2 separate regions of the Homo sapiens genome follow, and region 1 is linked to region 2. The links come from fine-mapping of genetic effects on gene expression. A gene starts in region 2. The other region holds a variant in brackets. All regions are shown on one strand. Distances are between the middles of the regions. Region 1 has its middle 8.3 kb from the start of RGL4. Region 2 holds the start of IGLL1 (immunoglobulin lambda like polypeptide 1).

What was found. PIP is the estimated chance that this variant, and not a neighbour inherited with it, causes the effect.
Region 1: its variant is fine-mapped to the expression of IGLL1 in whole blood (TOPMed, PIP above 0.99).

Annotation. Positions count from the first base shown.
Region 1 is chr22:23,680,071-23,685,444 of GRCh38, reverse strand. It overlaps the pseudogene GUSBP11. Among named protein-coding and RNA genes, the nearest start is that of RGL4, 8.3 kb to the left of the region's middle. RefSeq lists a silencer at 1-283. The variant T/A (reference allele first, on the strand shown) is at 2,585.
Region 2 is chr22:23,577,713-23,583,031 of GRCh38, reverse strand. It overlaps IGLL1 (immunoglobulin lambda like polypeptide 1), which reads left to right and starts at 2,742. Exons shown (of 3, transcript NM_020070.4): 1 at 2,742-3,047. The coding sequence starts at 2,842. It also overlaps a transcript of DRICH1 not described here.

The sequences.
Region 1 (5,374 bases), 100 kb before region 2:
TGGCAGGAGACCAAAGCCATGACCCCATGGTCAAAGGCATCCATGTGCAGGACTGAAGTTGAGTGACTCATGTGGGGAGGGGCGGGGCACAGCTGCTTGCTGGAAGGGTGTTGGGAAGTATTGGTCCATCAGCTGTCATGTCCACCTTTTCCTGCTGAATCCCAGCGATCCTCAGTGGTCTGAGAAGGGTGTGACACCTGGGTTCTTGGCTGGCTGAGCTGGTGCTTTTGCAGCCTCTTTGGGGCTCTTGTATGTGAGGTCTCACCTGAGTTGCTTCAGGAAACCTTTGACCCTCAGGCTACCTCCTGCTTAAGAGCAGAGCCTTTGTGTGGAGATCTGGCTGGCCTCTCTAGCATCCAGCCTGTCCTGTCCTGTTATGTCTCGGTTTGAGGTTGTGCTGAGGGGTCTCTTCCCATAGAGGAGGCAAGGCCAGTCGTGTGGGTCAGAGTGAAGCATGGCGATCCCAGCTGGCTGTGCCCGGCCTTTGACTGGAGGAGTCTGAGAATGACCAAGTCTGGGGAGCTGCCCTTCCTGGGAAACAGCATGTCTCCTCCCCTATTGTGGAGTTTCTGGATGTGATCCAGAGTGTGCTGGGCCTCTGTAGCATGTGCTGGGTGTAGCTGTGTGATTCAGGGTGGGAGGTGCAGGGGATCATCTGCTCTGAGCCAGATAAGGCCTGGACAGGACTGGCGGGCAGCCCTCGAAGCCAGGTTTGATGGGAGAGTAGGCACGGGTAGGGAGGGGACAGGGTCACCGGGGCTGTGTGTCACCTGTTCTTGCTGCTTTGTCTGCCCTGGGAGTGAGAACAGAGGTGGGCTGCTGTGGACCCACTTTGGCTTCCTGCAAGCAGGTGTTCATGTGGGGAGCAAGGCGGTTGGGTGGGGGACAAAGCTGGTCTCTGAGGTGTTGAGTGGTTCTTTGTCTGTCATTGTCCTTTTTCTCTCTGCCTTCCCCAACAGCTCTGCTGTAGCAGCCCATTGACCAAGTAGGTCACTCAGAGCATCCTGGTCCTACACATAAGCGTTAAGGCCCCTGAAGGGCCAGAGAAGGCTTAGGAGTTTCTCAAGAGTGAGCCCAGGGTGGGAGGGGGCCAGAGTCACTGAGAACAGCCCATTTGAAAAGTCAGGCAGAGGGATCCTGAGCCCTGAATATGCCTGCCTGGCCTGCGGTAACCATGCCAGCAGGGTCAGGGCATTTGGCCAATTGCTGTCTTGGTCGAGGCAGGAACATCTTGCTTCCCCAGCCCCTGTCTTTTTGTCTCCAGTATCCTTGGAGCAGCTGCAGGGTGGGTAGTGGGGTGTCTCTCCCAGCTGCTTGAAGAGATGAGCCTCCACCCGGCTGCCTCTGCCAGGGGAAACGAGTAATGACTGCAGCAGGGAGAAAAGCGAGCCCAGCCCCTTTTAGAATCAACCCTGCTGCTCCGATTCTAATTTTCAGTTCAGATTTTGCAGGCACGAGTGTGGGTCCCTGAGTACCTGCCCTTTGAATTCTTTTGGTGAGGACTGAGCATTCCCCCAGGAGCTTCTCATCGAACCCCAAAAACACGGCCCCCAATTCACCACCTCATCCCTTCCCAGGACCTGCTGAAGCTCACACCCGTGGACCACCCAGACTGCCTGCCGCTACAGGATGCCCTCCGCATCTCCCAGGACTTCTTTCCGGCATCAGTGTGGACATTGACCCCACTGGACTGCAGTCACAGTGGACTCCCAAGGGGCAGGTGAGCTCATGGCACAGCAAGGCCTCACGCTCAGGTTGAGGAGCCCAGAGTGGACCAGATCCCCAGTCCCTTCTCTGATGGCACAGGCATCTCTCTGTGCCCCTTGTCTCTGCAACCCTGATTCCCCATTCCCAGCCAAGGAGAGGTCTTCGATCCCTGGTCATGCTGATTTGATTCCCTGTGGCATTGTGGGCCCTAGGCTGAGAGCTTTAAGCCCAGTCTCTCAATAATCCTAAGAATCCAGTGAGCCAGAAGAGGGCACAGGACCAGAGAGTCTCTCCAGGTACGCCACACAGTCTTTGAGCTGTGTCAGAGCTGGATTGTTTACCTGGGGCTGGCTGTTTGGAGGCCCCAGGCATTGTCCCCCACACCAGGGAAGTTGGCCTGTGGGTAACTCGTTCTTGAATGCAGACACCTGCCTATGCCATCAGGGTGACCCAGGAGGGTGAGGGAGCAGGACATCTCAGCCACTTTAGATTGACTTGCATGAGCAAGAGCCAGGAAGGGAGCCCCACAGAGGGAAAGGCTGGTATTAGAGGTGGCCAAGGCCATCCAGGTTGCTGGAACATTCCACATGGGCTCCTGGATGTCAAACAGCAGTTTCCCTGGGGGCCCTTCTTGGTGGAAGGGTGGGGGTTAGTCCAGTGAGGAGAAACAACACTCAGCATGAGAGGCACAATTAACCCCTGTGGGTCGGCAGCCTGGCCCAGATCAAAGGCTTCCTGACCGATAGAGGTTGTTATGTGGCCCTGAGGAGTGAAGACTGCCTGGGTTCATGCTGCTTTGTTACATTTGTGAGTGAGGGGCAGGTCTGGAGAGTGTCTGATGGCGCATAAGGAGCTGTTTCTGTGCAGTTGTTGGTTC[T/A]GGTTTGCAAAACCATGGGATATCACTAGTTTGGTTTACTCTGGGGATATCTGAAAAATCTCTGGAAGACTTAGAGTAGCATCAGTTGTAGGTCATCTTAACTGTACGGTTTCAATGCACGCACCTACATCTCGCAGTGTACACAGGTCACACGGTGTGTCATAGAGACAGGAAAGACTGGGACAGATGGTTGCAGCCCCATGGAAGCCCCCCTGACTCTGAGGGTGGCTGAGGGGAAACTCTGGAAATCCTCATGGAGTAGAAACCATCCAGAGCCCAGGTGAGAGGTGGCTGCAGGTCCCCCCAGGACACTTCTGCAGCCCCAACCGAAGGCAGCCCGGGGTCTCCCATCCCCTGGGTATATTTGTTAAAAATGTGTCCATCATATATGAATTTGGGTTTGGTATTTGGTTCCCTCGTTGTGTCTTGTTCTGTATTTTTGTGTTAATGTCAATACCGTATTGTTTGGACCACTATAGCTCTTCTATGTCATTTGTAATCAGGGAGCATAATACATCCATGTACTTTGTATTTCCCAGTGATGAGATTGCTAGATGACATAGTAATTGTATTTTTAGTTTGAGGAGGAACTGCCAACTATTGCTCATAGTGTGTACGCCCATTTACATTCCCACCAGTAGTGTCTAAGAGTTTCCCTCTCTGTAAATTTACACTTGTGATTGCGTTTTAAAAATTCTGTTTTTGCTTTTGGCAACATTCATTTTATGTGGATGGGGACGCTGTCTTAGTGTGATTTGATTTAAATTTTTGTGATGATTAGTGATGTGGGCAAGCTTTTTTTTTTTACCTGTTCATTTCCTGCCTTCTTTTCAGAAATGTCTATCAGTTCTTTGCCCAAGTTTTGTTGGATTAGTTGGTTTTGTGTATTTTCCTACCTTATGTTAGTTTCTGGTATATGTCAGATGAACACCTTCAGCTCCATGATTCCTTATACTTACCGCCTCACAGCATCCTGTGCTCATTCTGTCTCTTCCGCTCAATGACCACTGCCTGTGTCCCATTCTTCTCCCTCCCCAGGGCAGGGCCCAGACCTCCTGCCTCCCATGGAAGCCTGGCCCAATGCGGGGCCAGCCACATGGCACAGTGTCCAGGGCCTTTCTGAGTGGTGGACAGGCCAGTTGGCATGGAAAATGGTGTCTGGGGTTTCTGAGTTGACTGTTGAATGCAGACTCAACCCACTCACAACCAGTCACCACCACTGCCACCCAAGCAAGCCACCTGGGAGCCTGGAAATTGCTCTGCCCACCTCTTGCCATGGGCACAGACACATACCATAGGGAGGACTGCCAACAGACCCAGCCCACCTGCCCCTGGTCCCCAAGGATGACATTCAGGGGCCTGGGGATCACCCCAGCCCACCAACCACAACCTGTGTCCATGCAGGCTCCCACAGGGCCTAAGGACAGGCTGACCCCTCCCAGAGAACCCCCACCCCACAAGTACCCAAGTACTTCACCCAGGGACCTGGGTATAGACCTGCCCTGCCTTCCACTTCTGGCATGTGCTTGCACCAGCAGGGGGCCTAACAACAGGCCAGACCACCTGATGCCAGCATCAGGTCCCATGCCATCGTGGGACCTGGGGATCACCCTGCTCTACCCATGAGCACCATCAGGGGCCCCGGGGCAGGTTCATCCCACCTGGCATATGTATGCATGAACTAGAAATGTGTTTGCCTGCTGGGCATGGTGGCTCACGCCTGTGATCACAGCACTTTGGGAGGCCAAGGCGGGTGGATCACCTGAGGTCAGGAGTTTGAGACCAGCCTGGCCAACATGGTGAAACCCTGTCTCTACTAAAAATACAAAAATTAGCCAGGCGTGCTGGCATGTGCCTCTAGTCCCAGCTACTCTGGAGGCTGATGCAGGAGAATCGCTTGAACTCAGGAGGCGGAGGTTGCAGTGGGCCAAGATTGCGCCACTGCTCTTCAGCCTGGGGGATAATCCGATTGAGACTCCATCTCAACAGCAAAAAAAAAAGTGAGAAAGAAAAATGTGTTTGCCGCTGTGATACTTTCAACAACTCAGAGACATGGGGAAGCAGTTGATACGTCATAAAAAAAAGCCCGTGGCAGATCCAGCTGAGAGATGTGATGGCAGTTCTGCTGCTATGAAAGCAGTCTTTCTTTGACATTAAGGTTTGTCACAGCTCTTGAAAATTTGGCAGTGAGGTTGAAGGTCTCTCAGAAATTCCACGGATCCTTGTATTGCGTATGCATGAATAAAGTTAGAAAACTTTTTTTATCTTTCTCTAGAAATGAATATGAACTTGGGTTAACTTTCTGAGTCAGTTCCCTTGGAAACCTGGAAAAGGTGGAATGTCATCTGTGTTGGGTTACCAGACTACAAATAAAAATGGCCCAGAGTTGGTCATCATTATCTGAATTGGGAGAGCTGTGAATGAATTGTAAAACAATGGGGGCATCTCGAGTTAGAGAAGAGTATTTGCAATTTTTGAAGTCTGCCATCAATTGGACTTTGCTATTGTTAGAAATGTTTTGAAGTCTGTGGTCAACTTTTTCGTGGCTGGCTTTGGAGAAAAAATCAAGAGGTAAACCATACTTTGGGTTTCCCTGAGCGCAGTGGTGTTTGTAACTAGGCATGTCCGTTGCTGGGACCCTTGAAAACTTTGACCATGGGACTGTTAAAAGAAATCTCAGTGTCTTTTTGGGACACAGGCTTCTAAGCTTGGTAGCCCTGTGCCCACCCATGTGACCTTGCTGCTTTGCACGTGAGGTGTCACTTGGGGAGCAGGATCCAGAGAATAGCT
Region 2 (5,319 bases):
TGGTTGCAGCCATTGGAATTAATTTTACACCCTCTGAGTTGCAGTGCAAAATTTGAAGACTGGCATTTGGAAGCTCAGTATCATCAAGGATTCATTTATTTTATGATGGTTGACAACATTTTCCAGGCCACACTAACTGGGTCAGCTGGTAATAATAATAATATGATAATTGGCCGGGCACGATGGCTCACGCCTGTAATCCCAGCTCTTTGGGAGGCTGAGGTGGGCTGATCGCCTGAGATCAGGAGTTCGGGACCAGCCTGATCAACATGGTGAAACCCCGTCTCTACTAGAAACACAAAAATTTAGCATGATGGCGGGCACCTGTAGACCAGCTGCCTGGGAGGCTGAAGCAGGAGAATTGCTCGAACCCGGGAGGCAGAGGCCACAGTGAGCCGAGATAGCACCATTGCACTTCAGCCTGGGCAGCAGAGTGAAACTCCATCTCAAAATAATAATAATAATAATAATAATAAGCCCCTGAAGGTATTACACATGCAGCACTTTCCAGTTTAAAAAGGACTTTCAAAGGACAAGTAGTGTATGGTCCCATCCATAGGAGGTATCCAGAGTACCCAAATATAGAGATGGGAACTAGCATGGTGGGTGCCAGGGGCTGGGGGAGGGAGGAATGGGAAGTTGGTGTTGAATGGGGACAGAATTTGAGTTCTGCAAGATGAAAAAGATCTAGACATGCCATTGCACTCCAGCCTGGGCAACAGAGTGAGACTCCGTCTCAAAAAAAAAAAAGAAAAAGCCAGTTGCGGTGGCTCACGCCTGTAAACCCAGCACTTTGGGAGGCCGAGGCAGGTGGATCATGAGGTCAGGAGTTTGAGACCAGCCTGACCAACATGCTGAAACCCCATCTCTACTAATAATACAAAAATTAGCTGGCATGGTGGTGGGCGCCTGTAATCCCAGCTACTCAGGAGGCTGAGACAGGAGAATCGCTTGAACCCGGGAGAAAGAGATTGCCATGAGCTAAGATTGCGCCACTGCACTCCAGCCTGGGCAACAGAGCAAGACTCTGAAAAAAGAAAAATCTAGAAATGGATGGTGGTGATGGTTGCACGACATTGTGAATGTAGTTAATGCCACTGAACTGTGTACTTAAAAATGGTCAAGATGGGCCAGGCGCGGTGGCTCACACCTGTGATCCCAGCACTTTGGGAGGCCCAGGCGGGTGGATCATGAGGTTAGGAGATCGAGACCAGCCTGGCCAACATGGTGAACCCCATCTCTACTAAAAATACAAAAATTAGCTTGTCGTGGTGGTGCATGCCTGTAATCCCAGCTACTCAGGAGGCTGAGGCAGGAGAATCGCTTGAACCAGGGATTCGGAGGTTTCAGTGAGCTGAGATCACGCCACACTGCACTCCAGCCTGGCGACACAGCAAGACTCTCAAAAAAAAAAAAAAGGTCAAGATGATAAATTTTAGGTTGTGTGTATGTTACTGCTTTTTCACAGATGAAGAAAACAACACTGACATGCATTATCTCCCAACACCAACCTCAACCCAGCCCTGGAGTGTGAGCAGAGCCAGCAGCATTTCCAGCCCCGCCTCTGGAGGAAGGAGAGGAACCTGAGACTCTTGGGTGACCTGAGGCGTCTCTGGCAGCACCAGCAAAAGAGCCTGGCCCTGGCCGCCCAGCACAGGTGCTCAGTCCCTCCTGACTGCCACTGCTCCCTCAACACCAAAGCACAGGGTCGCGAGATGTTGGGAGAGGGTCGGGGATGCTGGGCTGGGAGAGGACCGGGGGCCTGTCAGAAGCCATGACATGATGCACTCACCGCTCAGGAGGAAGCTACTGGCCTTTGAGTGAAATCTATAAGAATGAACTCTGGAGATGTATCGTACAACATGGAGTCTACAGTTAAAAACTGTATTGTATACTGGAAAATTGCTAAGATTAGATCTTCCATGTTCTCACTACAAAAGCATAAGTATGTGAGATGACGGACGTGTGTGTCAGCTTGATTTAATCATTTTGCAGTGTGGCAAAGCATCGCACTGTAGGTGGTAAATATATATACAGTTTTGTCAATTATACCTTCAGGAAGCTGGGGTGGTTGGTGTGTGTGTGTGTGTCTGTGTGATGTGAGGTCAGTGAGGTGCTGAACATGGTGCATTAAACAGCATTTTCATTCTTATCTCATGATTCCTGGACTTGAACCGTTGAGTGGCTTCTGGCTAAACCCAAACCTGTTTCCTGCTCTCTAACCACACCTCCCTCTAGGACCGGTTGGAGGAGCCTCAGCCCAGGCCCCTGAGCTCAAGCCCTGGGGGACTCCTGCTGGGCAGCTCTCTGGACCCCAGTGAGATGCTCCACAGACCCAGGGCGCCCTCGGGGAAGTGGGGAAGGAGGGAAGTCAGGTGCATCACCTCTTGGGACCAGCCCCGAGGGGACTCAAGCCCATCCAGGGCGCAGGTGCCTCCAAAGGAAAGCCCCAAGGGAGGGTCTTGGGGGGCCATGGCGCATCCCACCTCCCTGTGTGACCTCAGCTCTTGCTGACCCTCTGCCTGTGGTGGGAGGTCCCCAAACAAAGCACCCAGGGCCCCAGGGGCAAGGCCAAGCTGACAGGTGTGGGAGGCAGTTGAGCCCTGGATCCTGACCACAGCAGGGCAGTTGGCAGATGTGCCTCTGGGACAGAACCCCAGGGGTAACGGTCATGGACTCTGGAAGGGGCCTGGCTGGGGGCAGGGACCAGAGGATGAGGATGGGGCCACATGGACTGGGGTGCAATGGGACAGCTGCTGCCAGCGAGAGGGACCAGGGCACCACTCTCTAGGGAGCCCACACTGCAAGTCAGGCCACAAGGACCTCTGACCCTGAGGGCCGATGAGGCCAGGGACAGGCCAGGGGGGCCTTGAGGCCCCTGGTGAGCCAGGCCCCAACCTCAGGCAGCGCTGGCCCCTGCTGCTGCTGGGTCTGGCCGTGGTAACCCATGGCCTGCTGCGCCCAACAGCTGCATCGCAGAGCAGGGCCCTGGGCCCTGGAGCCCCTGGAGGAAGCAGCCGGTCCAGCCTGAGGAGCCGGTGGGGCAGGTAAGGGGTGAGAGATTCCAGGGGATGTGGGGGTCTGGGTGGCAGAGGCGGGAAAGGATGACCAAGGGGAGACGAGCCAGAGGGGTGAGGAGGAAGGTTAATCCCTGGAGGGGAGCCACAGACACTGACTTTAACTAAAGTGTCAAGATTTTGTCCATCTTTGAATTAATTTTTATTGCTTAATGTCATATTAAAATATTATTTATCTTGATTCCTGAGATTTCTTCCCCCACTTACATTTGGCACCAAGGCCAATGTCTCCCTCACCTCCCCCTAGTCCTTGGGGTAGGGCAGGACTGGAGGCAGGGGCAGGACGTCCACAGGAGTGGTGGCCGCTATCCCTGAAGGATGCCCAGGCCTCTCCCTCCTCCTCCTCCCACTCCTCCTCCCCCCCCTCCTCTTTTCCCCTTGGCCTATGTCACCTGTCCACTCCCACCCTCACTGGGCAGGGGCCACTCCCTGGAGCTCCAGCTAAGGTGTGAGGGGCCTTTCCTGGAGTCCCTGGGTCACTAGACCTCAGCCAGCATCGCCTCCTGAAACCAGCCCCTAGGAGACACAAGCTTATCCAGGGTGCAAGTGCCTCCAAAGAAGAAGCCCAGGAGAGGCTCTAGGGAGGCCACAACTCCCTGTGTGACCTCAGCCATTGCCACCACTCTGCGTGTGGTGGGAGGTCCCCAGACAAAGCACCAAGCATCGGGGTCCATTTATGAGCATTTGGGACACAACAGCCTGTTCACTGGTGCATGTTATACCCACAGGCGATAATCATTTCAGGGGCAGAACCTCCCTCTCGGTGGCCCCATAGGCAGGTCCTGCTGTGATCCCCTTTGTGCAGACGGGGATAGAGCCCGGAGAGGTGAGGTGACCCGTCCGAGTCACTCAGCTCATGGGCACAGATTCTAAGGCCCAAGCTATCCCCTCTAGCTCTCCCCTGTCCCATCCTCTAAGCTGATCGAGCGGACACGTGCATCTCTGGGACCTGAGTTTCCCTTTTTCTCTCTTTTTTTTCTTTTTCAAATAAAGTTTCACAGAGTTTCACTCTTGTCGCCCAGTCTGGAGTGCAATGGCGAGATCTTGGCTCATTGAAACCTCCGTCTCCCAGGTTCAAGACATTCTCCTGCCTCAGCTTCCGGAGTAGCTGGGATTACAGGCATCTGCCACCACACCTGGCTAATTTTGTGTATTTTTTTTTAGTAAAGACAGAGTTTCACCATGTTGGCCAGGCTGGTCTCAAACTCCTGACCTCAGGTGATCCACCCACCTCAGCCTCCCAAAGTGCTGGGATTACAGGCATGAGACACCACACCGGGCCTGAGTTTCCCCTTCTGCAATCTGAGGGGCCCTGACTGGTGAGGGCCTTCAGCGTCCCACCCACCCAGAGGATGCTGGGGTGGCTGTGGTGAGAGCTCCAGCAGTGGCAGCCGACCTGACCCACACCAGGAGCCCGGCCATGGAGGCGGGGTCAGCATGGTGGCAGGCCGGGACCGGGTGTCAGTGTCCTGCACGGACTTCTGAGCAAGGAGTCCCCATCAGGGTCAGGCTCTGTGCTGGGGCTGAGGTCCCAGAGGATCTAGATTTGCCCCAATTCAAGTCCACAAGGAGCGGGGGCCGGGTGAGGAGACAGCCACATGCAGGGTGATGCCTACAGAACAGAGACTGGGATGGGGAAGGCCCGAGGGGTCTCCACAAGGGACGGGTGACAGGTGGAGGGAGACACAGATAATAAAAAATGGTATTATGTTGGGGGGCTATTAATGTAAGTTTTTATATTAGAATCTTTAGAAATCTTATAGAAATACTATGGGCCGGGTGCTGTGTCTCATGCCTGTAATCCCAGCACTTTAGGACGCCAAGATGGGCAGATCACGAGGTCAGGAGATTGAGACCATCCTGGCCAACATGGCAAAACTCCGTCTCTACTAAAAATACAAAAACTAGCTGGGCGTGGTGGCGCGAGCCTATAGTCCCAGCTACTCGGGAGGGGAGGCAGGAGAATCGCTTGAATCAGGGAGGTGGAGGTTGCAGTGAGCTGAGATTGCACCGCTGCACTCCAGCCTGGACGACAGAACGAGACTCCCACTCAAAAAAAAAAAAAGGTATTATGCTGGGGGGGATATGAATATGAGTTTTTATAATCTTTAGAAATACTATGGGCCAGGTGCAGTGGCTCATGCCTGTAATCCCACAACTTTGGGAGGCTGAGGCGGGATTGTTTGAGCCCAGGAGTTTGAGATCAGCCTGAGCAACATAGCAAGACCCCATTTCTACAAAA